4 separate regions of the Homo sapiens genome follow, and regions 1, 3 and 4 are each linked to region 2. Evidence: fine-mapped expression QTL. A gene starts in region 2. Each other region holds a variant in brackets. All regions are shown on one strand. Distances are between the middles of the regions. Region 1 overlaps MCC (MCC regulator of Wnt signaling pathway). Region 2 holds the start of MCC (MCC regulator of Wnt signaling pathway). Region 3 overlaps MCC (MCC regulator of Wnt signaling pathway). Region 4 overlaps MCC (MCC regulator of Wnt signaling pathway).

The links. PIP is the estimated chance that this variant, and not a neighbour inherited with it, causes the effect.
Region 1: its variant is fine-mapped to the expression of MCC in whole blood (INTERVAL, PIP above 0.99).
Region 3: its variant is fine-mapped to the expression of MCC in blood mononuclear cells (TOPMed, PIP above 0.99). The same link has a PIP of 0.9 or more in whole blood.
Region 4: its variant is fine-mapped to the expression of MCC in skeletal muscle (GTEx, PIP above 0.99).

What each region holds. Positions count from the first base shown.
Region 1 is chr5:113,048,664-113,056,663 of GRCh38, forward strand. It overlaps MCC (MCC regulator of Wnt signaling pathway), which reads right to left. Exons shown (of 19, transcript NM_001085377.2): 15 at 5,062-5,296; 16 at 430-636. Among named protein-coding and RNA genes, the nearest start is that of DCP2, 76 kb to the left of the region's middle. The variant C/T (reference allele first, on the strand shown) is at 3,865.
Region 2 is chr5:113,483,496-113,491,709 of GRCh38, forward strand. MCC (MCC regulator of Wnt signaling pathway) reads right to left here and starts at 4,958. Exons shown (of 19, transcript NM_001085377.2): 1 at 4,750-4,958. The coding sequence starts at 4,919. RefSeq lists an enhancer at 4,857-5,151.
Region 3 is chr5:113,059,401-113,067,400 of GRCh38, forward strand. MCC (MCC regulator of Wnt signaling pathway) reads right to left here. Exons shown (of 19, transcript NM_001085377.2): 14 at 4,584-4,767. Among named protein-coding and RNA genes, the nearest start is that of DCP2, 87 kb to the left of the region's middle. The variant G/C (reference allele first, on the strand shown) is at 3,036.
Region 4 is chr5:113,213,472-113,221,471 of GRCh38, forward strand. The region is part of intron 3 of MCC (MCC regulator of Wnt signaling pathway); the gene reads right to left. Among named protein-coding and RNA genes, the nearest start is that of TSSK1B, 220 kb to the right of the region's middle. The variant C/T (reference allele first, on the strand shown) is at 4,306.

The sequences.
Region 1 (8,000 bases), 430 kb before region 2:
ATATATAAGGGTTCAGTATTACCTGTGGTTTCAGGCATCTATGGGGGATTTTGGATCATATCACCTGTGGATAAAGGGGGCCCTATTATACCAATAAACCAACAAATGAGGGCTGCCGTGTGACAGAGGATTAGACGAAGGAGGTGAGAACAGTATCAGTGGACAACTGCAGAGATCACCCCTCTGATGTGACTGTGATATGTGAAAAGGTTCAACTATTACATAAAGTGAGATTTGGTATTTCTAAAATGTAGACCTGGTTTCATTACACTCAAAATGTCACCTTCTTAGATACCTACGAATGGCCTGCATTTCCTATGCAAATACAAGAACTGAGGCAGCAGGGCGGTGAGGTGTGGCCAGTGGTCACTGGGCAGTCACTGGGCAGTCACTGAGCCTAAGGGTGTCCCCAAGCCACTCCGGCCCTACCTTGCCAGGTTTGTCTTTGCTGCCGCTGCTGGTGGAGCTGAGGGATCGCATCCGCTGCTCCTTCTGCTCCTCCACCTCGGACTTCAGGTGCTCAATGTGCACCAGGTAGGCCTGCTCCTGGGCCTCCCGCGTGCTCAGCTTCAGCTCCAGGGCCTTCTTCTCTTTCTCCAGTAGGTAGAGCTGGGCCTTCAACTCGGCCATCTCCTCCTACAGACAAAGGAGCACAGAGCACATGAGGCATGCCCTATCTGAGAGCAGGCCTGGCTGCTGCCAAGTGGGTGGGTGGGGGGTCCCCGGCTATGACCCACAGGCCCATGGTAGAGTTCTCACTTTGAAGTTGGCAGTAGGATGAGTGGGAGGAGACGTGGCACCTGTCACCACACTTCTAAAGGAATGACGTATGGACAAGGCCATGCACTTTGTCAGTCTATGGACTAGACCTGAGACAGAAGGGTAGAAGTTACAGGCAAGATTGTGGTTCAATATAGGGAAAACCTTTCTAACAAATAGAGCCCCCACTCAGGCACATGGGCCTTGATGGAAACCCATTCTCTGGTCTGCAGAGGCTGAGCTGCACCTGCCAGAGGCTGTAAAGTCACCTATCCATGGAAGGCCTCTTCTGGCCAAGCCCCTTCCAATTCCCATTTTGGTTTCCATGGCACCAACCACATGTTTAATCACACCCACGGCACCTCTGTTGCCCTGTAGCTGGGCCAGGCATGCGGCGAATGCCTGCAGCAGCATCAACCTCCAGCTCTTGCCTACTTCTCAGGGCCCAAATGAAATCAATAGAAACAGCATCCTTCACAGGTGACTGCTCATCAGACAACTTCTAAAAGTATCCTAAGAACTCAAATGAGAGCGATGAGTGGAGAATACGAAGTGAATCCAAAATAGGACAGTGCCATCCTGGGACCAGGAGCCAGTAACAATGACAGCCAGTAGCCTTTACTGAGCACGTGGCACTGTGCTAAGTGTTCACATGACGTGGCTCATTTCATCTTCCCAACCTGGGTTAGGTATTGCAACTATCTCCATTGACAGATGGGAAACTGAGGCACACAGAAGGAAATCCCCCTGCTTATGGCTACTGGGTAAGCTGTGGAGCCACAGATTGCAGCCAAGCTGTCTGGTTCAGAGCTATACTGCCTCCCTCCCTTTCAAGGTGAGCCCACGCATGACTCTTGTCCCCGCACTTCTGCTGGAGAGTAACTCCACCAGCCCATGGCCACCAGGTCCAGCCTTCCCAGCCCACCGTGAGATGGACTCACCTGAGGTTAGTTCAGATTCTCACAACCCCCGAAGTCACCCTTCTGAGGTAATAAACCACAGGCCTGGTGCACTCTCCTGGGTAAGTTGGACTAGGGGGTAGATGTTTTCACTCTCAAATGTGGGGAAATGGGTAGAGGACACCCCTCGAAAGGGACATTAGTCAATATGCTCAGTAAACTACTCAGAACATGCCAACCTTCTTTACCCTAAATATCAGACATAAAAGCCAGAATGAAAGGTGTGCCACGCCCAGAGCCTTCGGATCTTTTGCCATTGGAAGCAGGATTCTGAAGGTTCTGGCAACACTGCATACTGAGCTAATGTGATGGTCGCTTCCAGAACAAACATATAAGTGCAGGCTTGAAAGAGGGAAAGAGAAACCTATGGGTGCCAGAAATGAAGAGGGAACTCTGCCAGAGAGAACGGCAAGGAGGGCAGGTGCTGGCCAGCAAGGCGTCAGACTGTCCTCAGGCCCTCCACCCGGGGGCTTAACATTACCCAAGGCCAGGGCCGTGGCCTCTGAGGCAGAGAGCCACAGCTCAGACCCCTACGGGAGCAGGATTCTCATCAGGCTGCCCATAAGACACTAGGAAACTTCCTTTCTGGAGATGTGACAAGTAAACTTGTCATCTCTCAGGCTCTGTGTGGGAAAAGAAAGAAAAATCTCTTTCCAGGAATTAAACCTCAAGCTTGTGTCATGTGTAGGTGTGGTACAGGAATCCAGAGCCAAGAACTTAATAACAACTAGTCCTAAACCTCAGAAACTGATGAGTCCCAACAGATCTAAACATAGAACCACTCTGTAGGGACATCTGCAACCCAGGATCCTCAGGGCCCCACGGAAGACAGTTTCCACAGAGGATGAGCTGGTGCTTGCATTCTCTCCCCCTACCCCCACCACCGAGGAAATGAGAATGAATCAGCACTGACGAAGAATGAGCGGATGCAAAAAGTAAGAGTCAGCATTTACAAGAAGCAGAAATAACAATGTGCAAAACTAGAAAATAAAGATTTAAAACAAAGTGATACAGGAGTCATAATGAAGGGATAAGATGTTCAAAAAGGAAGAGAAGGCCAGGCCTGGTGCCTCACATCTGTAATCCCAGCACTTTGGGAGGTTGACCTGGGTGGATGACTTGAGCCCAGGAGTTTGAGACTGGCCTGGGCAACAAAGTGAGACCCTGTTTCTACAAAAAAATAAACTTAAAAAGTCAGCTGGGTAGGGCAGTGCATTCCTGTAGTCCCGGCTACTCGGGAGGCTGAGGCAGGAGGATCACTTCCAGCCCAAGGGCGAGGCTATAGTGAGCCATGACTGTGTCACTGCACTCCAGCCTGGGTAACACAGTGAGACCCTGTTTCAAAACAACAAACAAACAAACAAACAACAACAAAAAGAAGAATGGATTTGAAAAGGAACCAAGCACATCATCTAGAAATGAAAAGGTATTACAAAAACAGAAATTTGAATTTCTCAGCAGTTGGATCCTAGAAACTGGTGAAAATCCAACGTAACCTGCTGGATAATGGATTTGGTATGGGTGAGCACACATCCCCAAGCAGACTGGGAGGGACTCAGAGGAAAAGGGGACGGCTCTGATATTTAGCCTTCAAGAAAGTCATAGGGAACCAAGCCAGAATGCTAGCAATGGCTGCCCTGGATCATGATATTATGGATTGTTCTCCTCCCAGCTTTTCTACTTTTTTAGAAAATTTCTAAGATCAGTACACATTTTATTTTCAAGTGGCAAAGGGAGTATTAGAACTTTTATTCCAACAAAAATGTCTTTCTTAGGTAGAATACCAGTAAATTTATCACCCCACGTTGGCCAATTTTAAAAAGGAAATCCTTAGTCTTTGGCCAAAAGAAACACAATGTTTGGAACAAATGATGGAAGGGTGGCCTCATAGCTCGTGCCACAGGCTGCAAGCATCTGCAAACAGGGCTCCCAGTTGGGGGAAAAGTCGCTACAATGATGGACCCAAGTCTAGCTCATAAGCAATGAGAGGTGGAATCAGCCAAAGCAGCATGAGGATTCTCTACAGAGAGGTCAGGATGGGAGCTGCGTGGCTTGATGAAGATGAGCCAGTTTGGAAATCATGGGGGTGGGGGTGGGAGGTAAGATTCCTGTATCTGTTACCACTGCCTAGTGTCTTCCCAAACTT[C/T]GCCCAGATTCTAGCTCAAGAAGCTCCCAAGGACAGGGCTGTGCTGAGTGAGTCACCCCTGAGGGTGTCAGGATGGCTGCTGTTGCCAGCTCCCCTCCACTCTCCAGAGATGGTGCGACCAGGGGGTTGTTTTTCTCCCTGCTGCGGACAGTACTGATCCTAATAGGAGCCATTAACTCTGCACTGCCACGACCTGCTCTGGCTTGCTAGACTCCAGTTCCTGACCGGTCCTAAACTCAATCTCTGGCTCTCTTCCCCTCCCCGGAGGTCAGGTGGCTGAAAGTCCCAATCCTCCAACACACGCCTGGTCCTTCTGGTGACCAGCCCACATTCTGAAGCTGTCTAGGGCCCACCATAAGTCACCTCATCAGCATCACAAAGACACCCCTAGCTCAGCAAGAAACTCCAAGGGTTTCTCAAACTCTGTCCCAAAACCAAGGACAAATATCAGATATGGTCTTATTTATACCACAGCTGCCTTGTAAGAGCAGGTACCAGGTGAAGGGCTGGTGCCTGGCATTCCACACCAGAAACAGGCAAAGTGATGTCTTGTTGTAGGTATGGCGGTTTAACTACTTCCCAGTAGGGGACACCAGCTTTCCAAGAAAGCTCCCTTCTGTAGAAATACCAGCAGGTAGGTATCTCCACTAGCAGCTGAAGGGCCCAGTGTTTCAGATCCACTGAAACACTGACCTCAACAGCACTGTACACCTTCACTGGAGGGCACTATGGTCTGAGCAGGCTCGACATTGCACCAAAGGTACAGGGTGTCAGGAAACTAGGGCTCTCGGCCAAACTCTACAACTGGCCTCACCCTGTTCTCCCCCTGCCGGAGTTAACATCAGCATCAGCAACCCAAGACATATTTCCAAGCATTCTTGAGATTAGGGGTCAATTTAGATGGACAGAGGCTCCACCCTGCAGAGGTCTGACCTGGCTTCTCTTAGAGGATGAAGGGCTCCAAAGTTGGGCTGGGACACCCTGAGAAATCCCTTAGAAATTCAACTCCCCTGTCCAGAAACACGCAGCCCAAGTGACCCCCAGACATAGTGAAACCAGCTCTGTCTATAAACAAGGGTCTAGCTCTTCTCTGGGCAGGAGGGGTTGATTCCTCCTTATCTGCTGGACCTGCTTTCAGAGGTTGTTTAGATTTCCTCCTGGTGGCAGCCTAGCACATGGGACCCACCCACCACATACCTTCATGGCCATGAGCTCCTGCATAAGCACTGCGTTTTCCAGATCCAGCCTCTGGCTGTCTCCCCGAGGCTTGACGTCATAGCTGAGAGGATCGATGTGGATGCTTTCCAGCTCCAGCATGGTCAGCTTGACCGCAGCCCTGTCATTCTTGAGCTGCTGGATATAATCCTTCAGCCTCTGCTCGTCTTCTTTAGTGAACTCGGTGTCGCAACTACTGGCTGTGGAGCTGGTTGTGCTGAGAAAGAAGAAAAACAAAGACCCACCACCCTGTGTTATTCCAAGTCATGGCAAATAGATCTTTCCTCCTCACTCTTCTCCACATTCCCTCTCCCCAGTGTTATTTAGATGGTAATCCAAAAATCAGTTTTCTTCACAGCATAGGAAAATGATACCACCTTTTAGGAAAGAATTAAGTATGAAGAATAACAAATGCTTACACTCCTTGACGCAACACTGTGGACTCTAGAAATGAATTTCTAAGGAAATAATTCCACAGAAGCAAAAAGATACACATACAAAGGAACATAATCTAAAATACAGTTTAGTGATTTATCACACCTATCAAAAGGAGGGAAATCATGTGGACATTACAGTGATAATTGTAATAAGTGAAATTATAGTGATATCGACAATGGTGGTGATATTTTGAGGACATAGGTTAAAAGATATTATATATGTAATAAAAAAGATACTCATGTGGTCAGAACTTAAAAAAGGTATATTTAAGGCAACAAAAGTTGAAGCACAAAACTCCTATGGCATGATCCACAGATGCGTGTCACACCCTCGCACGTGTACGCAGGTGTCCCAGGCTGTGGCAGCCGTCCCTGCGGAGCAGCACCGAAGGGGGCTGTTTTGCTGTGTTTACTTCTGTTGTTTGCAACATGTACCATGAAAAACACAGGGGTGCACAACACAGCAATAACCACTTTGGGAGTAGGGTACCCCCTGGCCTTCACAGGATAGTCTGAGTATAGTGTTCACTATAGGGACTCGGGCTGGCCCAAGGGCCCTTGGCAGCCCAAGGTGAATGGTGACCAGGCAGGGAGCCCCCAGCTGAACCCCAGGCCTGTGGCAGCCCAGGAAGGTTTCTAGGGGACCAAACCACCATGAAAGGGGGAGCACCACTGGAAAACGGAGGCCACGGCTTTCAAGTGGGCTCTGGCCTTTTCCAGCAGTGGGCAGGCTGCTCCCCGTGCCTCCGAATAAGGCCCACTCCACTCGGTTGAGGACTCTGAGGCCAGTGTGCACCGACAGCAGTTTCTCTGCACTTGCACTGGGCCTCCCTAGGGGTGACTCGCCCCTCATGGAACTGGTCTGAAGATGGCAGAGGAAAAAGCAGAGGCCTACTGACCTTGCATCAAAACAGGCCAGGCTGTGTTGTCATGTCTGTTGCTACAGATTTGGAAAGTGAAGCTCAGAGACATCAAGTGGTCAGCCGAGTCATGCGACTGGAAAGAGGTGCAACTAGACTTGGGCCGCAGCCTCGTCCCACAGCCCTGTCCTTGTCCCCAGAATCCTGTAGCTAGAAGCTATACCAGGGGCCACGAGTGATCTCCACAGGCCGCCAGATGCCACAAACCCAGGCCTGCCCTCCTCATCTCACACTGCAAAAGGGTAAGAGCCAGGACCCCAACTCAGTAGCTGTAGTCCCCACAGCCTAGACATGAGTGAGGGCAGGCCCACTCTTGTACATGACACATTGCTACGAAGACAAGGCTTCCGGGGAGAGAAAAGCTGAAGAGAGATGGTGGCTGGAGCTTTGCTGTTCACAGGAGGAAGAGGCTACCCTAGGGCTTGGGGTGGTCTTCAAGTCAGAGAACCCCTTCTAGAATGGGAAACTCCTGAGCACTAGAAACCCTTTGGGGCTGCGTCTCACTCCCTCTGTACCATCAGGACGGGTGGGAAGTCCCTTGGAGATAAGGTAAGCTAGATCAGCCTGACCATTAAACACCATCTCTTCAGAGGCTATGCCCAGTAAGTTCCCACGTCAGCTGGGCTGGGCTATGTGCGCAGTTGCTTGGTCAACCACCAGATTAGGCATTGCTGCGAAGGTGTTTGTTACATGTGATTACCATTAAAATCAAGAGACTACAGGGAGACTGTTTCCATACAGTGAGTGAACCTCGTCTAATCAGAGAGGCCTTAAGGGGAAAGACAGGTCCCCCAAAAGGGAAAAAATTCTTCCTCCAGACAGCTTTCAGACTCAGGATGGCAACATCAACTCTTCCCTGGGTCTCTAGCCTGACCTGCAGACTTCAGATTTGCCAGCTCCATTATCAAATGGGCCAATTCCTTAAAATAAATCACTGTTTGCGATTTACTAGAATCTATATCAAGAGATCGATCTTGATCTTTCTATCTAGGTATAGATGTCTCCATATAGACCCACCTCCTATTGGTTCTGATTCTCTGCAATGCCCTAAGAGCAAAGTGCTACCTTTACGTGTGACCCAAGCGTCTTACATACTTTGAATATTCCCTGTCTTCTCATCTCTAAAATGAAGGTAATCATAGTACCTGCTTCATAAAGTCAGGGTAAGGAATAAATGAGGTAAAATTAGAAGTGTTTGTAATAGCAAAGACATGGAATCAACCTAAATGCCCATCAGTGGTAGACTAGATAGAGAAAATGTGGCACATATATACCACGAATACTATGTAGCCATAAAAAAAGAATGAGGTCATGTCATTTGCAGAAACATGGATGAAGCGGGAGGCCATTATCCTTAGCAAACTAATGTGGGAACAGAAAACCAAATACCACATGTTCTTACTTATAAGTTGGAGCTAAATGATGAGAACACATGAACACAAAGAGGGGAACAACAAACAATGGGCCTACTTGAGGGTACAGAATAGCAGAAGGGAGAGGATCGGAAAAAATGACTAATGCATACGAAGCTTAATACCTGGGTGACAAAATAATTTATACAACA
Region 2 (8,214 bases):
GGTTATGGGATTAGAGATCATTTTGATCTTATTTTTGTATATTTCTATATGTTTCCAAATTTTCAACAACAAGAGTATCTTTTATATAACCCAAAAGAAGTTATTTTTAAAGAAAAAATATCTTTAATAAAATATACACATATCCTCAAAGACCTAAAGACAGAAATACCATTCAACCCAGCAGTCTCATTACTAGGTATATACTCAAAGGAATATAAATCGTTGTATTATAAAGACACATGCACCTGTATGTTCACTGCAGCACTGTTCACAATAGTAAAGACATGGACTCAACCTAAATGCCCACTGATGATAGACCAGACAAAGAAAGTGTGGTATGTATATGCCATGTGATACTACACAGTCATAAAAAAAAAACTAGATCGCGTCCTTTGCAAGGACATGGATGGGACTGGAGGCCATTACCCTTAGCAAACTAACACAAGAACAGAAAACCAAATATCACATGGTCTCACATATAAGCGGGAGCTAAATGGTGAGAACACATGGACACATAGAGGGGAACAACACGCACTGGGGCCTATCAGAGGGTGGAAGTTGGAAGGAGGGGGAGGATCAGGAAAAATAACTAATGGGTACTAGGCTTAGCACCCATAACTAGTCGGCACTAGGCTTAGTATCCATAACTATAGTGGGCACTAGGCTTAGTACCCATAACTAATGGGTACTAGGCATGGGTGATGAAATAATCTGTACAACAAACCCCCACGACACAAGTTTACCTATGGAAAAAATCTGCACATGTACCCTTGAATTTAAAATAAAAGTTAAAAATATACATATTTAAAATATTACATAAATATGGAAAATATCTGAAAATGAAAATGTTTGAAACATTTTCCAATATACATGAACATACCACTGTTTATTCTTGGTCACATTTTCATCAGAATTTGCTGATTGTGTGCTACATGGTAGATACTGTGCTAAGTACTGAGTACACTGTTTTTGAGAAAACAGATATGATTTCTGCCCTCAGGAAGCCTACATTTAGTGACAGAATGACAATAAACAGGCAAAGTAGCAAACAGAAATGGAATTATAAGTTGTAAAGGGCACTTTGAAAGAAAGCAATCAGTACTATGATGGACAATAACGGCAGGATAAAGCAAATCTATTTTGATATAGTGGTCAGGGAAGCTCTCTCTAAGGCATCAACATTTGAGCTGAGACTTGGGAACTCAAAAATGTTAAGCACTGGCTTTCAATATTTGTCAAAGGTATGTTCAACATAAGCAGTTTCTTATATTGAACGGTAAAAACAAAAAGCTTTAAAATTCCAAAGGGAAAATAATTTCAACAAATAGAGTAACCTCCACCACCTTCTATAATATGGTATGCAGGGTCCAAAAAATCCAGTACCATAAAATATGTGGTAAAGTCATTGTAAGGTTAATGAAATGCACTGAAAGAGCTTACGGTGGTCTCACTCTGCTGCCCAAATCCAGCGGGGTCCCAGCCGCAGTTTGGAGCTACTTGATCATAGCTTTCTGTTCTACCTTAACTATTGATGGGGATGATTCTGGGTCCCTTTTATAGGCTAAAGTTCCTTGGCAGAAGCAGCAATTCCAAGAATCTAGTTAGCTGATGCCTTTTTTGTCAGCCTGATAGGAAGACTGGGCCAAGAGAATATTGAAAGCACAAAGCACCACCCCTTACCTCCCTGACATTTCCCCTCACGGCCCAGTTTCTCTTCCACTTATCCTTCCCCCACACTTAAGATTTCCAGCCTACTCCTGTTTAGAATGAGGGTTCAGCGGAGGACCAGAGCAAATATACTTGAATGTGGATTATCATGGGATGGGGGGTTTATTATAGGTATTAACCGCTACTTGCCCACCCAATATCTATTTCCTGCTCTTAGTAACAGAACCCAGATTTTGTTTAGGAGGTAATGTGCCTAGTTGAATTATATGCTTCCTCGGACTCTACTGAAGTAGGCATGGTTAAGTGATGTAGTTTGACCAATAAGATGTCAATTAAGGGATTTGGGAAAGCTCTGCTTTAATGATACAGGCACAACTTATTTCCACTTCCTTTTACATCTTCTTCCCTAGAATTTGGGGATGAAGAGGGAGACAGGGCAATCACCTTTGGACTATGAGATAACCATGAGGATGAATGCTTTATGTGAAAAATGGTGTTGGAGAAAGGTAGAAGGTAGCTGGGGACTGACACCACCGCAGAGCTGCTGCCCCAACCTAGATAGCCTACCTCCAGATTTCTACTAGGTGACAAAGCCAACCCTTACTTGACTATGGTTAGGTTACTGTGATGACATATAGTCATCTGAAATTCTAACAGATACAGCTGTCTACCAGGAACATAAATTTAACGTCTTTAGATGAATCCAAAGTTTTTAAGGTTTTAATGTTAAAAAGTCCAACTCTCATGTCTGATAGAACAGGAATGCACAACCCTCCAAACCACATCACCCACTACAGAGTGGTAAGTACAGGTCATTAAATGAAAGCAGCACAGAAAAGTGGCTTCAGAGAGGGAATCATTTAATGCCCCTTACCTTCATTAGCCCCATTCCCCAAGTCTTACCACATAAACGTAAATTCCAGGTAAAACTGTGCTTACCAGGTAAACACACTTCCAGACAAGTTCCTTGTTGCCCTAGATTGCCATCCCTAAACTTCTCCTACATGGCAATTCTGCCACAGCATAATTTTCAGGGCAGCTCCACCCACAGTTAAAGTTATGATTTAGGGTTCATTACTACACATACCTTGAAACTTTTAAGCAGACACATTAAAGTAATGCAGCTCAAGGAATGTTAACAACTTTTTCCACTTTTGCCCCAGCCAGTTTCTACTCTAATCCAAAACGGCTTCTTTATCACCACCCACTTTACTCAAATTACGCTTACAGAATTCATTATCCTCCCGGGTAGAATCACCGAAAATAATGTGAGCATTTATATAGAAAGTGTAGTTCAGATAAAGCAATATATTAATAGGCCAAATTAGAAAAGGATAGCACGCTGCTAGTTTTCTGTATGCACTCTTGCCCGTGTGAAATTAAACTTTTTTGCATCCATGCGGGGAGCGGTGGCTCAGGCCTGTAATCTCAGCGCTTCCTAAGGCCGAGGCGGGCGGATCACTTAGGGTCAGGAATTCGAGACCAGCCTGGCCAAATTGTGAAGCCCCTTCTCTACTAAAAATACGAAAATTAGCCGGGAGTGGTAGTGGGCACCTGTAATCCCAGCTACTCGGGAAGCTGAGGCAGGAGAATCTCTTGAACCAGGAGGCGGAGGTTGCAGTGAGCCAAGACCACGCCACTGTACTCCAGCCTGGGTGATAGAGCGAGATTCTGTCTAAAAAAAAAAAAAATTGTATCCAAAGTTGGAGTTTGCCTTTATTATTGCAAATGAGATAATAACCTTTCAAGTAGGAAAACAACAAAAAGGAAAACTATATAATGAAATTTCTTTTACTCCCAGAACCAAAATAACGAGACTTCCAGATAGAAATTTGCATGGAGTCAATCAGAATTACATATTATTTTCATTTCCGAACAGAATTACTCCATCAAGTTTTCTGATATCTTCCTAATGTTTCTCAGTAAAACTTTAGCAAAGTAATAAAAATTCACCTAAGAATGATCAAAATTGCGTTGAGTCCCAAATAAATAATTTTTTTTATTTTAAGGGAAAAATTCCGCACTTTGCTTTCTTTTTTTTTTTTTTAGGTAGGCAGGGACAATCAGGAAGCAGCCCCGGATTTTCAGAAACGATCTTTAGCATCACCAAGACATAGACTAAAGAAACATGTAATGCACAACTTAGGCTGCTCCTTCATCCAAGGCAATTCAAATTTCCACGGATACCAAGTCTTCAATGGCCGGTGTCAACCATTCAATAGAAGCATACCAGAAAATGTTGCGATTGCCTTCTTCACCACAAGAGTCTAAGTGACACAAATTTGGGCAGAAGTAATTATTTGGCCAAGCCGGGAGGCAGGAAGCTTAAATACCGCCTCTGTAGGAAGTGCGGGGGATCCGAAGCAAACACCCCAAAGTTTGTTTGTGAGTGGAGGCGCGGAGGCGCCCGGAGCCACGCCGAAGCTCACCTGGTCAGCGCACAGAGCCGGGTAGGAGTCGGGTCTAGCCCTAGTTTGCTCCTGAGCGCTTCGTTCCTCTCAGGCTACTGCGTTTAAATCAATACTGGGTGGCAAACGATACCCATTCTTTGGGCTCTGAAGTTTGGAATTCATGGGTTCTGCGGCACAAGAAAGTTTCTTCACAGGTTATTTCCCTGTCCGAGGCTGTCGCTTAGCTCATCTCCTCCCGGTGCGGCCCTGGGGTGTCCACCAAGCCGCCGGGCAGATCGCTGCCCCGTGCTGCGGCATCTTGATGCCCAGGACCCCGAGGCTGTGGGGCAGCCCCTCCTACCTGGGACAAGCGGCCAGAACTCCTTTTCCCACAGGGAAGAACACTCCAAGCCCCCGGAAGAGTGCGCATCCTAAGGAGATGTCTCCCAACGCCTAGACAAAGACAGCGCTGGGAAAAGTTGGACCAACTGGCACCCCCGCAAGGCGAACAGAGCAGTCCCCTCGGCCTTCGTGGCCGAGCCGGCTACGCGCTCTCGGAGTCGCGGCCAACTTTTCCCGCGAGCTTCTGAGCAACTTGCCGCAAGTTGGGGCGAGGGGGCAGAGCAGGGGTCAAGGGCGCGCGGAGGGACTGATCTCGCTCCTGTCGGTTTCCTCGTACCTCCCCGCGTACCTGCTGATGTATCCGTCCCCGTCGCCGTCGCACGTCTGGAAGAGGCGCCGCATCCTCTCCTCCTCGCCGGTGCTGGACGTGTCGCTGCTGCTGCTGCTGCTGCCGCTGCCGCCGCCGCCGCCGCCGCTGCTGGAGCTCCCCGCAGCCGCTGCCGCCGCGGCCGCCATCATGCGCCCGCTCCCTACTTGGGAGGAGGAGTACGCGCGACCGCAGCTGGAATCCGCGCGGCGCGCAAGCTGCCTGCAGCCCCGAACTTGCCTGACAACGGAGCATGCCCAGTGGCCGCCGGGGCGCTCCGGGCGAGGGATTCCACCTCTCCGGGTTTTGCCCGGACTGGGAAGATGGGCGCTCTGGAATCGCCCGAGGAGGCACCTCAGGGAAGAGGGAGGAGGGGAAGGTGGCTGGAAGAGTCAGGGAGCTAAGGGTGGCAACGGGAACACAAGAGGAGGCAGAATACACTGGAAGCCCCCGGGAAGGGTGTCAGCATTGTGCATCCGGCAACGACGCGGGCCCGGGACACTTGGGGACGCTTCAGGCAGAGGGCAGGTGTACTCCCGGCAGACCTTCTCCGACCGCCCGGAGTCATGGCTTCCTTTTCCAGAGAAGCTATATAAACACTCTCCTTCTGCAAACTCAAAACGGTGCTTGTAATCCCACTCTCCAGGATTGTTCCGGGTTCTGTACCCATAGCCACCAATGAGAACCGGAATGACTGGCCTTTTTATGAAATTTTGACACCTGTCAAGAAACCTGGCCCTCGCAGCCCTCATCTTGGCTCCCACTCTGTACTGGGAAGAGTCTGCACGCTGTGTGGCATTGTGTACGTTGGGTCAATTTCTGGAAACGGCTCACTCTACTGGCCAGGCATCACTAGAATTTCCCCCAACAGCTTTAATAATGCCAAGAGCGAACATAATAGATGGTCTCATTTGATCCACACTACAGACCTGGAAGATGCCTCTTTTATTATCAATCCTACGACTTAGGAAGTATTAATAGATAAGTACCTCATAGAGTTATCTTACATATAAAAGGAGAGCAGACATAATGCAGTTAGGACAATGTCTGACACCTAGTAAGTGCTCAACAACTGTTAGCTCTCATTGTTCCCAATTTACAGGTAAGAAAACTGAGGTACCAAGACCTGCTCAAGGTTCCAGGTTTAGTAAGTGTTAGGGCAGAGGCAAGCCCGGGCAGCCTAACTCCAGAGCAGGAGCCTTTAAACACTGCACTATTCCCCCATAGCCAAAGGGAAACCACAGTGAAGCAATTTGTGGTTTCGTGAATGACTCATTATTCTGTCCTGGATTTTCTGCCAGAGAGGCGTGTGAAGTTCTCTGGTGGTTTTAAAATATGTCCACAGATTCTTTGGTGCACCCCTCATCAAGAGGTGGAGTCTGTTGCTTCCCCTAAACCTGGATTGGACTTGTGACTGCCTTGACTTCTGAGACTAGGTTAGAAAAGGCAATGCAGATTGCACTTGGCTCTCTCCCTTGGGACACTTACCTTTGAAGCCTTGAGCTGCCTGAAAAGAAGTTTGGCTACCCTGAAGCTGGAGAAACCATGCAGAAAGACCATGTAAAGAAAAAAGGAGATGACCAAAGAGCTACAGCTGTTCTAGCCCTGGATCTTAGAATCTTCCCAGACTAGGTGCCAGACATGAGTGAGAGATGATGCTAGCTCTAGATGCTGCAACTGCATTGGAGACCCTGAGCAAAACTGGCTAACCAACCCCCAGAGCTGTGAAGATAATAATTAAAAATTGTTGTTTTAAGCCATTAAGTTTTGAGGTGATTTGTTATGCAGCAATATATAACTGGAACAAGTCCATATGTCTTGGGAATGTCTGCTAGGTCAGAAGGAAGGAATCTCTGCTCTCTTTCTCCTCCTCTCCACCCCATCTACCTATTCCTACTTTACTTCTTTATTATTCTCTAAGTTCCCAGTATTTCAGGGCACTAAAATCATAGATTCATGAGTTAATGAGTTAATGGGTTATCATGGGAGTGGGACTAGTGACTTTATAAGAAGAGAAGGAGAGACCTGAGTTAGCAGGCTCAGCCCCCTTGCCATGTGATGCCCTGCACTGTTTTGGGACTCTGCACAGAGTCCCCACCAGCAGGGTGGCCCATTGACCTTGGACTTTTCATTCTCCAGAACTGTAAGAAATAAATTCATTTCTTTATAAATCACCCTAGTTTCAGGTAGTCTGTTCTAAGCAACAGAAAATTGACAAGACCAGAAATTAGTACCGGGAGTGGGGTGTTAACGAAAACGAATACCTGAAAATGGAGAAGCAGCTTTGAAACTGGATAATGAGCAGAGGCTACAAGAATGAAGCAGCAGTCTAGAAAAAGCCTAGGTTCTAGTGAGGGCTGAGAAGACAGGAAGAACAGGGAAAGTTTGGAACTCCTTAGAAATTGGTTAAATGGTCATAATCAGAATGCTGATGGAACTATGGACAGTAAAGGCCATTCTGACAAGGTCTCAGATGGAACTGAGGAACAAGGTACAAGAAAATGGAGTAAAGACCATCCTTGTTATAAATTGGCAAAGAACTTAGCTGAACTGTTCTATGCCTGAGGGCTTTCTGGAAGGCTGAACTTGAGAGAGAGAAACTGGGGTATCTGGCCAAAGAAATATCTAAGCAGTAAAGCATTCAGGCTGCAGCATGGCTACTTTTAACCACTTACATCAAGCTGTGAGAGGGGGAAAAAAACTTTAAAGGTGGAATTTACAATCATAAGAGAAGCAAAGTGGAAAGATTTGGAAAACTCTCAGCCTGGCCATGTGAAGAGTGAAAAGGTGTGTTTGGGAGAGGAAACCAAGGGTGTAGCCCAGCAACCTTTTGTTCCAGAGATTAGTAAAGGAAGAAAGTATCATTACGAGAAGGAAAGACCTCGATGGCATTTCAGAGAACTTTGAGTTGTTCCTCTCATCACAGACCCAGAGGCAGGAGGACAGAATGGTTTCAGGAGACAGACATGAGGCACCTTTCATGGGCTTGCTGCCAAGGTCTCTCTCAGGTCTTTACTTCCCAAATTCTGGTACAGTGCTTTTTGGACATGCCAGCTGTGGCTCAAGAAGCTTTAGGTGTGAATTGACCTGTCACTCAAGAAGATGAGAACCATAGGCCTTAATGGCATCCATATGATGCCATTATAATTCTTCAGGTTTGCAGAAAGCGAGAGCTGTGGAGATGTGGGGTCTCCACCTAGATGTCAAAGGATTTTTGCTGAAAGCCTGGGTCCAGGCAAAGGCTTGTAACAAGGGCAGAGCACTTCAGAGAGCTCCAACTAAGGCAATGTTAAGCAGAATTGTAGGGTCAGAGCTGCTGCAGAGAGTTTCCAACAGAGCAATGCCTAGTGGAGCTGTGGGAACAGGGCCACTACCAGAACCCCAGAACTGTGGAGTCACCAACAGCATGCAACATCTACTTGAGAAAGCTTCAGGCACCAGGCTCCA
Region 3 (8,000 bases), 420 kb before region 2:
TTTCTCTGGCCTCACAGACAAAGGCGCTGGCGGTCTCCCAAGGGCCTGCTGCTGGCTGCTGGGCAAGGGTTAAGTCATCCATTAATTCTCCCAGCTTGGAATGCTGGATGATCTCAGTTGTCAAGGGGGAATCAATCACTTTCTGTGGCTGCATTATTCCTCCTCTCCAGAACAGGAGCCTGTCTGTGTTCTCTGAGAGCGACTGTGGGGGAAGGCTAATGACAAAAACCCTCGCCACACATGTGTGTCTTGCTCTGGCTTCTTGAGGAGCTAGTCTAGGATGTGTGGGTTTCTCCTTTCCGTGATGCTCTGCTGGAGCTCCCGTCACGCTGGCTTTCCTCTGCATCTGTTCATTGCCAGCAGCTCTTCCAGCACAAAGCATACACAGCAGGCCTGTAGCCTGGTGGGAATGCGGGGCTGGCTGGTTCGGGACGGTTCGGGCCGACCCACTCTCCACCTACCCTGTCCACTATAGGAGAAGCTGTTCAAACCAGCTATCGACGTCAAATATCCTCTCTTCTATCCCTCTCCACCATGCCCCACCTCTGTCCTCAAGACAGTCCCCCAGCCTGCTCATTAGAAGAAAAATTCATTTTTCATAGCCTCCTCAGCTTGCCTTGGTGGAAGGCTAGAAGGACATTTCATTTCTTTTGCCTTGAAAATCCGTGATGACATTTTCCTGAAGTTTTCATCAACATCTTACCTGGCCCTAGCTGAGATCTCATTTCCATCAAGGAGCAGCTCTTTTTGTTTGTTTGTTTGTTTGTTTGTTTGAGACAGAGTCTCACTCTGTTGCCCACACTGGAGTGCAATAGCATGATTTGGCTCACCACAGCCTCCGCCTCCTGGGTTCAAGCAATTCTCCTGCCTCAGCCTCCTGAGTAGCTGGGACTACAGGCATGTACCACCATGCCTGGCTAAATTTTGTATTTTTAATAGCAACAGGATTTCACTATGTTGTCCAGGGTGGTCTCAAACTCCTGACCTCATGATCTGCCCGCCTCAGCCTCCCAAAGTGCTGGGATTACAGGTGTGAGTCACTGCGCCCGGCCTAGCAGCTCATTTTTAGAAGGAAAGTGCCCTGGGGGTGGGCATCTGTTTTGCTGAGCATTTGAAATTTATCTGAATGAGTGGGGTCAGTCCAATGTCCTTTCCAGTGAGAGTCCTAGAATGGAGAACTTTACCATCCTATGCATTTTGCAATGCTGGCATTTTAATTGCTTAGTTTTACAACAAACATACAGTTCTTTTGAAATCAAGAAGTTAGATCTCACTAGAAAAAAAACCATAAAAAGCATTCCATGTCTATACCTTGTTCTCATAGAACCTAAAAGGTAAGTGATGAGGACATTTGAGCAGGAGGACTGATCATAATGCTGTCATGTCAAGGATGTGTCGGGGCTGGTCTCTAGAGCTCACTAACACCAGTAAGCGTTTGTCTCAAGGACTTTGGATAGACTCTCCTGACACACAGATGGAAAAGCACCTCTCCTCAGTAAAGATGACTGTTTCAGCCAGATCTAGTCTGACTCTCATTCCCTGAAGCTTACTGATGCCTGTTCTAACTAGGTGGCTGTTTCAAAAAATTCACCCTTTCAATGGACATGATTTCACTCTCCTCAACCATTTTTTCTGCCCCAATGAAACTTTACCTTAATCCAGACTAGTTCAAAGAGTGAGAGCTAGGCATCTCTTGAGCTCTGCTGCTGTCCAGTCCAACTTGGGGATTACACCCCAGAGTGAGTGGCCACACAGGCAGCACCCTGGCTACCTGGAGGTACCTAGAGGCTCACGGCAAGGCTGCAACCACCATTCTCACAGCTCTCCAGGGTCCCCACCTGGTGCTGAGACAAGGGACTCAATTTCAGTCTCTGAGAGTACAGACTTGCTGTGGCCGATCCTGTCTTGGCCACAGTTCCTTTGTGGATTGAGATCGATGACTACGCTGCACAGAAGGAGCTGAACTGTGAGGCCTGCCACAGAGGGTGGGCTTGACCAAGGATTCCTATTTCCACTTCCTAACATTTTAGTCCTTGTGCCTCTTTGTCATGATATGTTGATAAAGCCATCCAGGCAATCAACCTAGTCACTCTGTCCATAAGACTATTATACTTTCTGATGAGGCCATGGCTATATTTTTCAAAAATGAAGTGGCACCGACCCTGGGCACCTGCCAACAGTCAACTGAGGGTTGGCTATCACTTTTATTCTCCTTGCTGGTTAACTACCCCTCTGCTGCTCCTCTCTAAAACCATTAACCCTCCTGTCGTTAGGAGCTGCCTATGGGCTGCCAGAAATGCCGCTGGAGGCACAATACTCAGCGTTTCTTTCCTGAACCCTTGAGGGGCAGTTGATGGACACTCTGATTAGACCTCTTGAAGCTGGGTGGTTACAGCGGGGGGAAAGGAGATTTGCTGGGCCACATAAAGCTCCAACTCAGAAAGATCCTTTTCTTTATTTTCATAAACTTGACAAGGGGGAATGTCTGAGCCAGAATGGCAAGATTTACAAACAAAATTACTATAATTATCATAATTATGAAAGGGGTCTGGTGCTTTGGGACTTTATTCTAAACCCACGTTTAACATAAAGCAGTCTAATTGCATCAGGTTCTAAGAATGTGGAGTGACAAATGAATGCCTCGTGTGTGGTTCTTCCATCCTCGGAGCTGCTCTGATTTGGGCGGGAGGGTAAAAGTGATTTTTTAAGGAGAATTGGGTGACATTGGAGCTAAAGACCTCTGTACTTTGATGGGAAGATCCATTTGAGACTGAAATTAATTTAAGAACCATTCTTTGGTGAGGTTATCCTTGGAAACAATGACTCTGTGTTTTGAATTTATCTCAATCTGCAGAAAAACAGGATCCCAAATTAAATTTCTCTAAGAAAACAGTCTCAAAATCAAGGCTAACCTGTAAGTTCAAGTACTTCTAACAAATATTCAAAAGCTAAATAGATGGTGATAAAATTGTTCTCCCTCCTGACTGGTTCTAAATTTGTCTCTGATTCAGAATAAAACCACAACATTCTTTTTG[G/C]GGGTAGGGAGGTTTGAGCAAATGATCCGTAGCACAAACCTCATAAGCTACTGAAACAGCACACATTTCCTGTCAAGCAAACTCTTATGTTCACTAATAAAACAACACAGCATCACTGACAACATGAGAACTACATTTCTATACTAAATAAACACACAAATTATAGATTATACACATCTGGAAGAGTCATTAAGAAGAGCATCTGCTTTCTGTGTTTACACAGTAGAATATGGTTTTATGAAAAAAATTATAATCTGTGCTTCACTGAATGAGACAATTGTTGCTGAAGTAAAGAAGAATCAAGTCCCTTTTGTTTGTGGGCACCTGGCTGAGTGCATTACTGGGCATGTTCCCTCTCCTGGGACACCTGGGCCAGTAGAGGTAAATGGAAGCGCTAAGGTAGATGGCGGGTCCCACCAGGGGAGAAAGAGAGAGGGGAACATTAAGTTGCTTTCCAGCACCAAGAAAGCATCAGTATTTCTCCTCTGGCTCTCAACAGTCAATCTATCTTTATGCAGTTCTGGTCACTTAGTCTGCAAGTAGACACTGTTTTGTTATGTCATGAGATCCAATGTGGGAAGAACAATATGCTCGATGCTAAGATCCCGGGTTCCCATCCAGGTTTCCCTCTTATCACCAGGCAGGTCACTGACATTATCTCTGAGCCAAGGTTTCCTAACCTGTGAAAATGGAGTAAGTTACCCTTCCAAGTCTTTCACGATTTGGCAATTAAGTAAGAATCTCTAACAAAGTGTCTTCTAAACTGAGGACTGGTAAATAAAGGGAAGGCATTCGTGTTTTTAGGGCTTTGGTGGCAAGAAATGAGAAGGTAAGTAGAAAGGGTTTTGTTCTGACTCTCCACTCCCATCCAAAGAATGAAATGACTTCAGCAAATTATGCTCTGCAAGGTCTTCGCCGCTCTCTTCCTAGCTTCCTTTTTCAAGCACCCACTTTAATTTCCTAGATTCACAGACAGTGAACTTGACCTCAGGTTCATGACTGAGTGCCTGTAAGCATGTGCTGTGAATGTGGCATCATTCCATGAGGCAAAAGAGATGAGAGGAGAGGCTCTTGCCTGAGAAGAGCTTATAGACGATGGAGGCACAAGAAGACAGGAGAGTGATGTCTGGAACTAGGATGAGCTGGGCTGGGCCTTGGGACCAGAGGGACCATTTGGAGCAAACGGCTCTTGGCTACCCTAAGTGCTTCCTGGAAATGAAGACTTATAAAGAAATGGAGAACAGAACAATGCAGAGAAAATGGATCTGACAGAAAGGTAGGTTTGCATTCCATCTCTACCACTTTCCACAGCAAATCTCTCCAATCTCGACTGCAGTTTCCACATTGGCAAAGTGAGAGGGCCACTTTCTAGCTCTTCTGTTCTGATCTTCTGACTCCTTTTTGGATGGAGCAGGCTGCATGCCAGAAGCCATGTCTGCCTTTTCCCAAGCCACACAGTCCCCAAGAGCTGGGTCACTGCACACCAAGTCCAGTGAACAGATGCCATGTGGACACACGCCCACCCCAGAGCAGAAGGCTGAGCATTACCTGGTGTGGCTGTTGGAGGAAAGGCTCTCCCAGGGCTGCACGCTGCAGCCGGCCACGGCAAAGGCTCCCCCACAGCTGCCGTCCAGCTTCATGAGCAGGGCCTTGGCAGCGTTCTCAGCTGTCTTCCGGCAGTCATGAGCTCGCTTGAGCATCTGAGTGATGTTTTCATCCCCCGACTGGTCTCCTATGTGGCAGAGAAGCCAACGGATTAATCAACATAGGCCTGGACAAGGCACGCCTGGGAGGGACTATGCATAATTAACTCTGTTACTTAGGGCAGAGGTGGCACTGTGGAAGGGAATTGGCAGTGCCCAGCCGAAGAGAAGATCTGTGTTCTGGGCCTGGCACTATCACTTAGACGCTACATGTGGGAAGGTATTTCTCTGCTCTTTCTCTGGGCTCCACTGGCCTCAGGGACAAGTGTAGGAGTTAACCAATGGGATCACCACATTTCTGTTTCCAGCTCTAACACGCTCTGATTTTTCTAATGATCCAGGCTCCTGGCTTCTCCTCCCATTCAGCCACAAGTCTACCATTTGGCCATTCCTCTGTGCATTGGCACTTCCCTGTGAATGAGGGAGGGAGAAACTAGGGCAAAACTGTGCCATCTTTCCACATGTCTACAGCTTTGGTTAGAGCCCTGTGTGGGGGCAAGAGAGACAAAACTAATGGTTCAGACGAGAGCTTTAGATTGGCTCTGTATTATAGGTACCGATGCCACCCCTGACCCTTCTCTTGGCTTGGTAATCGGCGTGAACTCAAATGCCTCCAGGAGCCAGGTAAGTGGGCTAGTGCAGAACATCAGGGTGTGGTGGGCACTCGCACAGACCAGGCAGTGAAGTCCCTGCCCAAAATGTTCACATTCCTATTGTGATTTAAGACTGTGCTGGAAAAGACAGAACTATAGAGATATTGAAAAGATCATGGGTGGCTGAGCTGAGGTGGGAGGACTGCTTGAACTTAGGAGTTCAAATACAGCCTGGGTAACAGAGCAAGACCCTGTCTCCAAAACAACAACAAGAACAACAGCAACAGCAATGGTTGCCAGGGGATGGGGTTGGGGGAGGAATGAATAGGTGGAGCCAGAGAACTTTTGGGGCAGTGAAGCTACTCTGTATGATACTGTAACCGTGGACTCAAGTTGTTATACATTGGCCCAAACCCATAGAATGTACAGCACCAAGAATGAACTCTGATGTAAACTATGGGCTCTGGGTGATGATGTGTCACTGTAGGTTCATCACTTGTAACTAATATACTACCCTGGTGGGGGACGCTGAAAACGGGGGAGGCCGTGCATGTTGAGGGTTGGAGGCATATGGGAAATCTCTGTGCCTTCCTCTCAGTTTTGCTGTGAACCTAAAACTGCTCTAAAAAAACAAAGCCTTAAAAAAATAAAACAAAACAAAACAGAAACTGTGCTGGCTGAACAAATCACTGGTTTGCTACCTGTACAGCACAGATCCATGCTTTTCCAAATATTTTTAAATGAAATCTTACACCAAATCATAGAAAATGCTATCCTAACATACAAAAAAGGTAAATGCGGAATTGGATGAAGTGGGCAGAAGTGGGAGACACACTCAGAGTCCCACCCTCCAACCCCACTGCCGAGGCCCAGAGAAACTCCTCCAGCTTCCCAGACCAGTTTGAAAACCACTAGCCTAAAGCACCTGTGAATGAAAGAATGAACAGAATGAATGCCTGTGACATCAACAAGAAACAAAGAAAAGACCCACAATCATAGATACTGTGGGTGCATGTCACAAATGAGTTCCTGCTTTGCTGTGCAACAGCTCTATGGCATGATGGGTGGCATGATGGCACAGTATGATGGGCCAGCCACTCCTGTCAGCGGAATGCAAGGGCGAGGCTTAATGGGGAACTGCTAAAAATCAAGCCTGCCCTCAGTACTATGGAGAGTGGGCAGGAAATGGGGTGGACCCATTCTGCAGGCCAAAAATCCCTGGAACTCCCTCCTGTCATTTCTCTGACAAACTTCATGCCTCTCTTCTCTCCACAAATAAGACATTTTACATACATCTCACCACTGACTGCTATTTGGAATTAGGCATGACATTACTTACTGGCTCATATTATAAATGTATACATGAACTTCCCAGTATTAGGTAAATACAAAGCATTTCATTATTGATTTTGAATATTTAAAAGGCAGATTTATTTAAGCTCTTTCAGCTCCTACACCAAATAACTGCACTGAGTAGGTACATGCCTAATGAAAGGTACCTTGTGAGGCCTGAACAGGTTAAGACACTCCGCTGATAACCAACTGGAAATACGATTGACTTTTTCCTTTAATTTATCATTTTTCTTAATACGTATATTAATTTAAAAAAATCCTGACAGCAGGCCAAGATCATTTTAGGATCTGTTTCATATGAGAAATAAAGTTTTATGGTTCAGTTAAAAGACCCTGAAAAATGAGGTTTCTAATGGAAATGCTGGCAGAGTTTCTACTTCTGGGCTGGGCTGGTAATACTATTTAAAAAAAACCAGAGGGAGGATCAGAGCATCACTCTCCATACAAATGAAGGTGTGCTCCTTTGTTGGATTACTTGGATATGAAGCAGGAAATTAACACCCAGGATACCTTCCTTCCTTCACTTTTGCTTCAGATTCCTGTGCAAGTCGAAACTGAAGGAGGAAACACATGTGAGTGTTCAGTGCAAAAGTGAGCCCCCAGACAAAGGGGGAGGAGCGGGGAAGAAGGACAGGAAGGTGCATTCAGAAGGTGCCTGGATGGTGACTTTCTTTGAAGGGTGTGTCCTGGATGGACAAGTCCTAATGGAAGCTCACAGCAGAAATCCAGTCCATGACAGAGGCCTGGCTACCACACATGGGAATGCCTGGCCTGCCCACACCATCCATCTTTGGCTCTGGAGAGACCTGGTCACCTTGGCTTTCTGTTTACTTGCTATTGCCTCTCCGAAGGCTAAGGGGGTGTCCGGGGCTTAGTTCTGCATGGAGAGACGGCCACCTTTCTCCTTGGGTCTCTCTTTCCTCTTAGCACTGTTTCTACTGCAGTCCTCCCCACATCACTGCAGGCTCGGAGCCACAATCACTGGCCACGTTTTAGCAAATGCTGCCGCTTCCTAGAATGACATGCTTGTGTCCAATTAGATACTCCTTCCACCTTACTCAAAATTGAGGGACAGAAGTGAGCAGGCAGTGCAGATCTCGAGGTACAGGTCAGGCCAACAGGGCACAGGATCCCCGGGCTGGGGGAAGGACAGGCACAGGAAAGCGAGGTGGGCGAGCATTCTGTGATGCTGACAAGAGCAGGGGGTGAAACTACTTCTTCTTTGTTCGTAAGACACCTGGAGACCTGGCAGGGGAAACCCATGTTTCAAAACTACTCAAAAGCCGGGCGCAGTGGCTCACGCATGTAATCCCAGC
Region 4 (8,000 bases), 270 kb before region 2:
ACCCTTCAGGCAGTTCACAGCAAGCAGTGTCCTAATAAAAATATTTAGTCATAAAAGAGAACAACGACATAACCTGAAGACTGCTTGGACCCTTAATGATGAAAGGCTGACTGGCTACACTGACAAGCGGCTTTGACAACCTCACGTCAAAGCACGCGGGTAAGAGAGAAAAGGCAAGCTCAGGGCTCTTTTCAGTACTGAGAGTGGTGGGCACAGTAGCTCTACTTCCCTGTTTCTGAAGCTGCCTGCCTAAAAAGTAAGGTTGGTTTCTAATTCCTGACACGTGTTCTCTTTCATACCCACTCACAGTGAATGACAACTTCCCTTTGTTGCCTCTGTCACTCAGAATTCTGTAATTCACTTACCCAAAGCTACTTTGTCCGAAAGAGGACAGACAAATCAGCTAATCCTTAAGTCCTTTTCAGCACTAAAGAATTTCCCTGCAGGGTGCATCATTTATTTTTTTTCTCCACTTCCTAAGTCCTCCTCATTCCTAATGCAAAGAACACAACATGAGGGACCCAATCAGCCAAGTCCAGAATTTGTAGGACTGATGTTTTTTGCAATAGTATTATTGTCTCTCTCATTTCCCTCCTCCCACCCCTGTCCCCATATTCCGGACTTAAAATACAAGGTCACGCACAATGGTGTGAATTAACAAAAATCCAAGGCCACACACTGAGCAGCTCCAACTTCAGCCATGAAAAGCATCCTGGGCTACGGCCAATGCCCTCCTCTCATTCCCCTGGTGCTGCTTTCAAAGCCACAAAGAACGACGGAGCTGAGAAACAGCCCCACTCAACCACCAGGCCACATCCCAGTGGGGAGACACTACCACATGCTCAGTCCTCTGCCCAGAGATCCTTTCTCCACCACATTCACAAACTCTGTTTAATCAAACTCCATGAACTGAGTTGCCTTGCGTGTTCATTCGCTGCGCTCCTATACTGGGTGCCATGGAACAATGGTAGATCCTTGAGTAGCTTATAGGCAAACTTGAGAATCTAAGAGATAAATACTTAAAATGTAAAGTGATGTGTACTAGATCATAGGAGGGCATGAGATCCTATAGCAGGCTAGGTTTGTTTCTTGACTCCTTCTGCTTCTTCATCCAAGCCCCAGCCTTATCAGTATCAGTGCCTAAAGGCTTCTGCAGCTCTACACCACTCCAACTTTACTCACTCAGTTCAAGTCATCAGCATCCTCCTCCCAGATCACTTGGATCTGCTAATTGTTCTTACCACTTCTAATCTCAACACCCTCCAAGCCATTTTCCACACTGTAGCCAAGCGCACCTTCTAAAGCTCAAGTTTCATGTGGTGGCCTGCCCATTCTCCATGTAAAAAATATCAGACAATGGCTCCTCATTGCCATCAGGATAAAGCCCACATTGCAATGCCATTTGTAACCCCTTCTACCTTCCCCATGCTCTACTGGCACCTGGTTCAGCCTTACTGGAAAACCTGCAGTGAGGCTGAACCTCCAAATCCCCATGCTCAACCCTGCCCTTGGGGCTTTGCACACAAACCATTTCCCTTACTTGGAACACAATCCCCATTTCCCTTACCTGGAACACAATCCTCATCTCTCCCACCACCCCCTTTACCCTTTACTTGGCTGGCTACTGCCAGCCCTTTAAGTTTGGGCTCAGCTATCACTTCCTCCAGAAGCCTTTGCTGACAACCCTAGGCAGAGGTGAATGCATCCTCTTTAGGTCTCTGCTGTCAGACTTCCATGTTCAACTACACTGTATTTTAGTTGCTTGGTATAATAGCTTGTCTATTTCCTCTACTAGACTTCAGACAACTTGGTGGGGGGAGGAAAGGGAGATTAGAATGGAACCTTAAGAGATGTTTCTTAATATCTGTTGAAAAAAGGATCTCAAGTATGACTTGTTTACCTGTGTATCTTTGTCCTTAGCATAGTGCTGGCTATGGTTTGAATACTGCACCCTTCAAAATTGAGGTATTGAAACTCAGTGGCCAATGTGATAGTGGTTAAGGGTGGGGGTTGGTCTTTGGGAAGTGATTAGGTTATGAGGGCTTTTGCCCTCATGAATGGGATTAAGGCTCTTATAAAAGACGGTTCATGGGCTGGCGGGGGAGGGCGGTTCGGCTGACTTGCCCTTCTGCCTGCCATCAAGTGAGGACACAGTGTTCTTCCCCTCCAATGGATGCAGCATCCAAGCCCTCTTAGAAGCAGAGATCAGAACCTCAGCAGACAATAAGCCTGCCGGCGCAATGATCTTGGACGTTCCCAGCTTCCAGAAATAATAAATAACTTTCTGTTCTTTATTAGTTGACTAGTTTCTGGTATCCCATTACCTCTCCCTTCACTACGAGAGAGCCTCAGTTACTATCTCCAGGCCAAGTTGAAGCCATTAGTTAGTCATTCTACAAATATTTAGTAAATGCCTACACTCAGTAGGGGCTGGAATGACCACACTCTGATCTCTCAAAGAAACCACCAATCGCTTTGTTGTTCAATCAAAACTGTTGTTTCTCAGTTATATCTTGTTTGATGGCAAGCCCTTCTCCTTTCCCTGTTCCAGAGGTCAGGAAACTATGGCCCATGAGCAAAATCTGACCTTCTACCTGTTTTTGTGAATAAAGTTTTATTGGAACATAGGTATGCCCCCTTTATTTACATAGTGCCTATGGTTGCTTTTGCTGCAAAAATGGCAGAATTAAGAAATTGCACCAGAGACCATATACCCTGCAAAAACTGTAATATTTTCTGCCTGGTCCATTACAGAAAATGTCTGCCAACCCTTGCCCTACCTATTATAACTTATGGGTTTCCTTCCTACCTTTGTGACTGTGACTGGACAGGCTCTTGTTATTCTGCTGCCCAATGAAGGTATAAGAAGTCCTAGGAACACTAGCTCCCCAGGATTCTGTCAGTCTGCTTTTTAACCTGACACGTTCTTTGTCTTTCTAAGATGGTTCCCATGGCCCCTGAACATCCCTCCATCAGTGACCTATAGTATAAATAATCTGTAAGCATTTTTGTCTTCCCCAACAGACGTGGCTCCTTGAGGACAAGGCCCATGTCTTACAGACATAATTCAGCACAGTGACAGGCACACAGTAGCCATCAAAAAATGTTAACTAGGTAGATGAGTGTTTACAAGGTATTTTTAAAATAACTATATTTAAAGGCTCCTGACAAAATGACTATATTTAAAGGCTCAGCCATAGTCCCTTGGTGAGAACACAGTCATTCAACTGATGAAATTTCTATTCTTTTGTATCAGTTTTGACTTGCCTATAGATGGGTGACAAAGTAGAAACCCCGAATAGGGGATTTCCCACTAGGATAAGGGTTGAAAGTCTGACTCCCGTTCACTAGCTGTAGGATCTTAGTTAAGGTGCTCACTCTCAGTTGCCTCCTCTGCAAAACGAAGACAATGAAATAATTCCTCTATCTCACAGGGTGGCTATGAAACCAATAATATGTGTAAAATGCCCACTACCTTTGTCAAGCAATTTTGGTGCTCAATAAGTAGAAACAATTATTACTATGGACAAAGTCTTCTGCCTTAAGGCTCCAAGTACACTGACAATGAACATGGCTAGGGTCGTCTCAGCTATGTTATAGCATCACACTTGATCTTTTCATAGCAGGAGCCCTGATTCAGGTGGTAGTTTCATATTTTAAATTATGAAAACAAGCAGCTAGGTCTTATATTAATACTAATCCTTCAAGATAAAAGACCAAACTCCAAAGGAGGAGCTTCTCTCTCTCTCTCCCATAAAGATTCATTGGTTAAAAAGCACTAGTGGTGATACTAAATTGAAGCATCAACAAACTGTTCTGTAAATTGTCTTTTCCTGATAGAATTTACCATAATTTGTTTTTTCAGCTATAGCACATAGCTTGGAATGTAATGCACACATTTTGAAGAGTAGACATTTTGATAATCAAAAGGACAATATTAAGTTGATTTTTTATAGCCTTATTACTGCAAAGATATTATTTTCTAAGCTAATGTACATACAAAACTTCATCTTTCTTTAAAGGTAAGTACATGGGGGCTAGAACAGAGATACTTGAGTTTTGTATGCATCAAAACAAAAACAGGGAGTAATACCAACACATTTAGCAAAAAGTAAAAAACAGATCCCACTCGTGTATGAAAATTTTTGGAGGAGCTGGGAATCAAGGAGGAAAGTGGGGCTCCAAGCTAATCAGGGCAAACTCTGCCTTCCACCTGTGCCCCTAATCTGATGCTCCGGTTGCATGACATGACTATGACGGATGGCCAGGGTGCTGTCGTTTATCTTTTGGAGTGAAACCGGAGAA[C/T]TCAGGCAGAGCCCAGTGAGCACTTCTCATGAAAATGCTGTCCTATCTAATCCCAGGAGACAAGAGAAACACTGAGAGGTCAGAAAGGACATGAGCACATGAGTGTGCACACCACGCCTGTATGTTCCTTTCCTCTTCCAACACATTTTCGGGGACTGAGGAAGTGTGCCGCACATATCCCAAACAGAATTTCTCAGTATTTTCTGCAGTTTGATCTGTCCCATGCTGACCAGACACTGTAAATAGTTTAGTTTAGAAAGAAGCCAGAAATCCTAAGTGAGCATCTGGCTCTTAAGAAGCCAGAAGGATGGTTGCACGGGGGTGGGGGTGAGGTGGGAAACTGGGGGGAGTATGGAGAGTGGGGGGGTGGGGGAGCCCTTTACCCAGCTTCTCTTACTCACGAGCACTGGCGACAAGCGACATTGGCTTATCGCCTCAGCTAGGATAAATAACTCTAAATGTGTGCTGGGTAGGAGCTTTCATGCCCTGGCCTTCAATAGTTTTATTCTTTCACGTCTCTAACGTCTGCAGCTTCCTGAGATTGGCTGGTATTTTTGTCACTGGGCTTTCGGGCTGGGGGCTGGGCAGAGCTGAATGTCAGGCAAGGGTAAAGGGCACCTGTGATCTGCTGAGTGCCTCCGCTTTCTCCTCCTTGTTCCTGACATTACCGCCCGCTCAACCAGGAGGGCAGAAGGTGGGTCAGAATAATCAGTTAAGTGTATTAGGGTTTTCTCCTCCTTCACTACAAATCCCACAAGTGCAACTAATGAGACAATGCCCAGAGGTAGAAATGAACTTCATAACACCAAAGTACGGGTGTATTTCAATTTATGCGAGTTAAAAAATGTTAAACAAGAAAAGCAAATAAGTCTCAGAGCTGTTTTTTCACATTACAAATGGAACTCAATACAGATTTTAGAATATAAATATCCTCTCAGGCATTTAAAATAATGTGTTCACAAGGCTTTGATTTGCACATGATGTTGGCAATATCTTTTGTGCAAGATAGACTTGGGGAAAAAAATCCTCAGTTTTAAATTTTTAGTTACTTTCAAAATAAAAGATGTAAATTAATAACTATTCTTCCGAATAGAAGGGGACGCATTATAAGAATAGCTTTTGAAATAATGTAGAAGAATATCCACAGAAATTCTCAACATCGTATGGATAATATGAAATCCGTGTTTTGTTTTGGTTTTGAATGGGAGTAAAGGTGAAGAGTCTAAAAAAAGAAATTTTTTAAATTCCTGATATAACAGAGAAATGCAGTAAAACAGCAGGTTTCAAACTGTCCTCTGGCTCTCGAGAGTGTTTCCAGGTTTCTACAAACAATAAAATATTGGCTGTTAAACCCAGAATAAAACACCCGAGAAGATAATAACAAGTTCGCTGCTTTTCCTTTTGGGTTGTTTTAAATGTTGGGGTGCTGAAGATTTCATTTGAACAAAGAGTTCTGTTACCAAATAAGTTTGGAAGCTATTGTTTGGGAGGTGCCGTGCAGTCTCTGTACACAGGAAGGTTAAAGGAAACGGCCCTTGGCAATGAATTCTGGAGGCCCTTCCTGGGGGGCCCTGAACTCCTGTGAGGACTTCCAATAAAAAGTCAGTAGCATTAAGAATCAGCAATTAAAATTCAATGATCAGCTGCTATGTTTAACCACAAATGTATCTAAAAAGCTGGTGTTAACATGTTTTTATTTTCCTAATAGCTTATTTGAAAAAAGGTGATGTTAAAACAGGATCTCAAAAATAGATGATTTTGTATTACGTTAGTAATAGTATATTATTGATAGTCTATAATCATTGCTTTAAAATTTCAATAATAGGTCCCAGTTGGAGGACCGTATAATGAATTCCCTTATACCGATTTTCTCTACTTTTGTATATGGCTGAAACTTTCCATAATAAAGTGAGGTTTGTTTTCTTAAAGTCCCAGCAGGCCAGAAACTATGTTAAAGGCTAAATTTCATGTCCCTCAACCACAGTGGACAAGGTTTAGAGGAGTGCTATAAAGAGAATATTGATTCCTCTTCATCCAGTCCAACCTGGCCTTCAGAATGACTCCCACTAATGTTTTTCCTATGCCATTTTCTACTGTATACCACACACCCAACCAACTTGGTACAAATAAATGTGACTCACAACATCCTCCCGGTCAGTGCCAACCCCTTATTGAAATTAGATAGTATACATCCTCCGGGTTCATTCTTTTTCTAAGTTAATTTGGCTAATAAAAGTCCTTTACATTTCCATGTTAACTTTGGAATCTGCATGTCAATTTCTTTTTCTTTTTTTTTTTTGAGACGGAGTCTTGCTCTGTCACCCCGGCTGGAGTGCAGTGGCGCAATCTCGGCTCACTGCAAGCTCCACCTCCCGGGTTCACGCCATTTTCCTGCCGCAGCCTCCTCAGTAGCTGGGATTACAGGCGCCCGCCACCACGCCCAGCTAATTTTTTTGTATTTTTTAGTAGAGACAGGGTTTCACCGTGTTAGCCAGGATGGTCTCGATCTCCTGACCTCATGATCCACCCACCTCGGCCTCCTAAAGTGCTGGGATTTCAGGCGTGAGCCACTGCGCCCGGCCAGCATGTCAATTTCTACTGAAATGTCTGCTGAGATTTTAATTGAGATCTATAGATCAATTGAGAGAATTTATATCATAGCAACATTGAGTTTTCTGATCTATGAATACAGCAGCTTGCTCCATTTATTTAGATCATTTCTTTTATTAATGTTTGTATTTTTTAGTGCACGATCTTGCACATCTGTTGTCAAATTTATCTCTAAGTATTTCATATTTTTGACAGATTATGATACTGTTTTAGAATTTCAATTTCTGATTGTTCATTACTAGAATACAGAAATATAATGGATTTTTCTGTATTTCCTTGGTATCTTGTAACCATGTAAAATTCACTTATTAGTCCTAACAAAACAGTTTTCTTTGTAGATACCGTAGGATTTTCTACACAGACAGTTATGTTATCTTTGAATAAAGAAATTTTTACATTTCCCTCTTAAGATCTGGAAGCCTTTTATTGTTTTTCCTTGCCTTACTGCACTGGCTAGAACATCTAGTGCAATGTTGAACAGACGTGGTGAACACTTTTAGTTGGCACCTAATACTAAAAGAAAAGAAGCAGTGAGGCCGGGCATGGTGGCTCATGCCTATAATCCCAGCACTTTTGGAGAGCAAGGCGTGTGGATTGCTTGAGCCCAGGAGTTCAAGACCAGCCTGGGCAGCATGGCAAAACCATGTCTCTACCAAAAATACAAAAAGTTAGCCAGGTATGGTGGTACATGCCTGTGGTCCCAGCTACTCAGGAGACTGAGGTGGGAGAATCACCTGAGCTGGGGAAGTCAAGGCTGCAGTGAGCCGTGATCGTGCCACTGCACTCCAGTCTGGGTGACACAGTGAGACGCTGTCATAAAAGAAAATAAGAGAAAAGAAGTGGTGAACACAGATGTGCTTGCATTTATCCCAGTCTGGGTGAAACCACGTTTGCAAAAATTGTAACTGAGACAGTGAAGGAGACCTGAACTAACCAACTCCATCTGCTTCTAACCTTCAAGCTGTCTTTGTCCATTCCTGGGCACAGGACAAACTAACTTTGGGAGGAACTTAGTTTATGGTTTAGCTTTGAAACGAAGATGATAACAGCCCTTTCCCAAAACAATTCCCCTTCCTGCCTGGGGA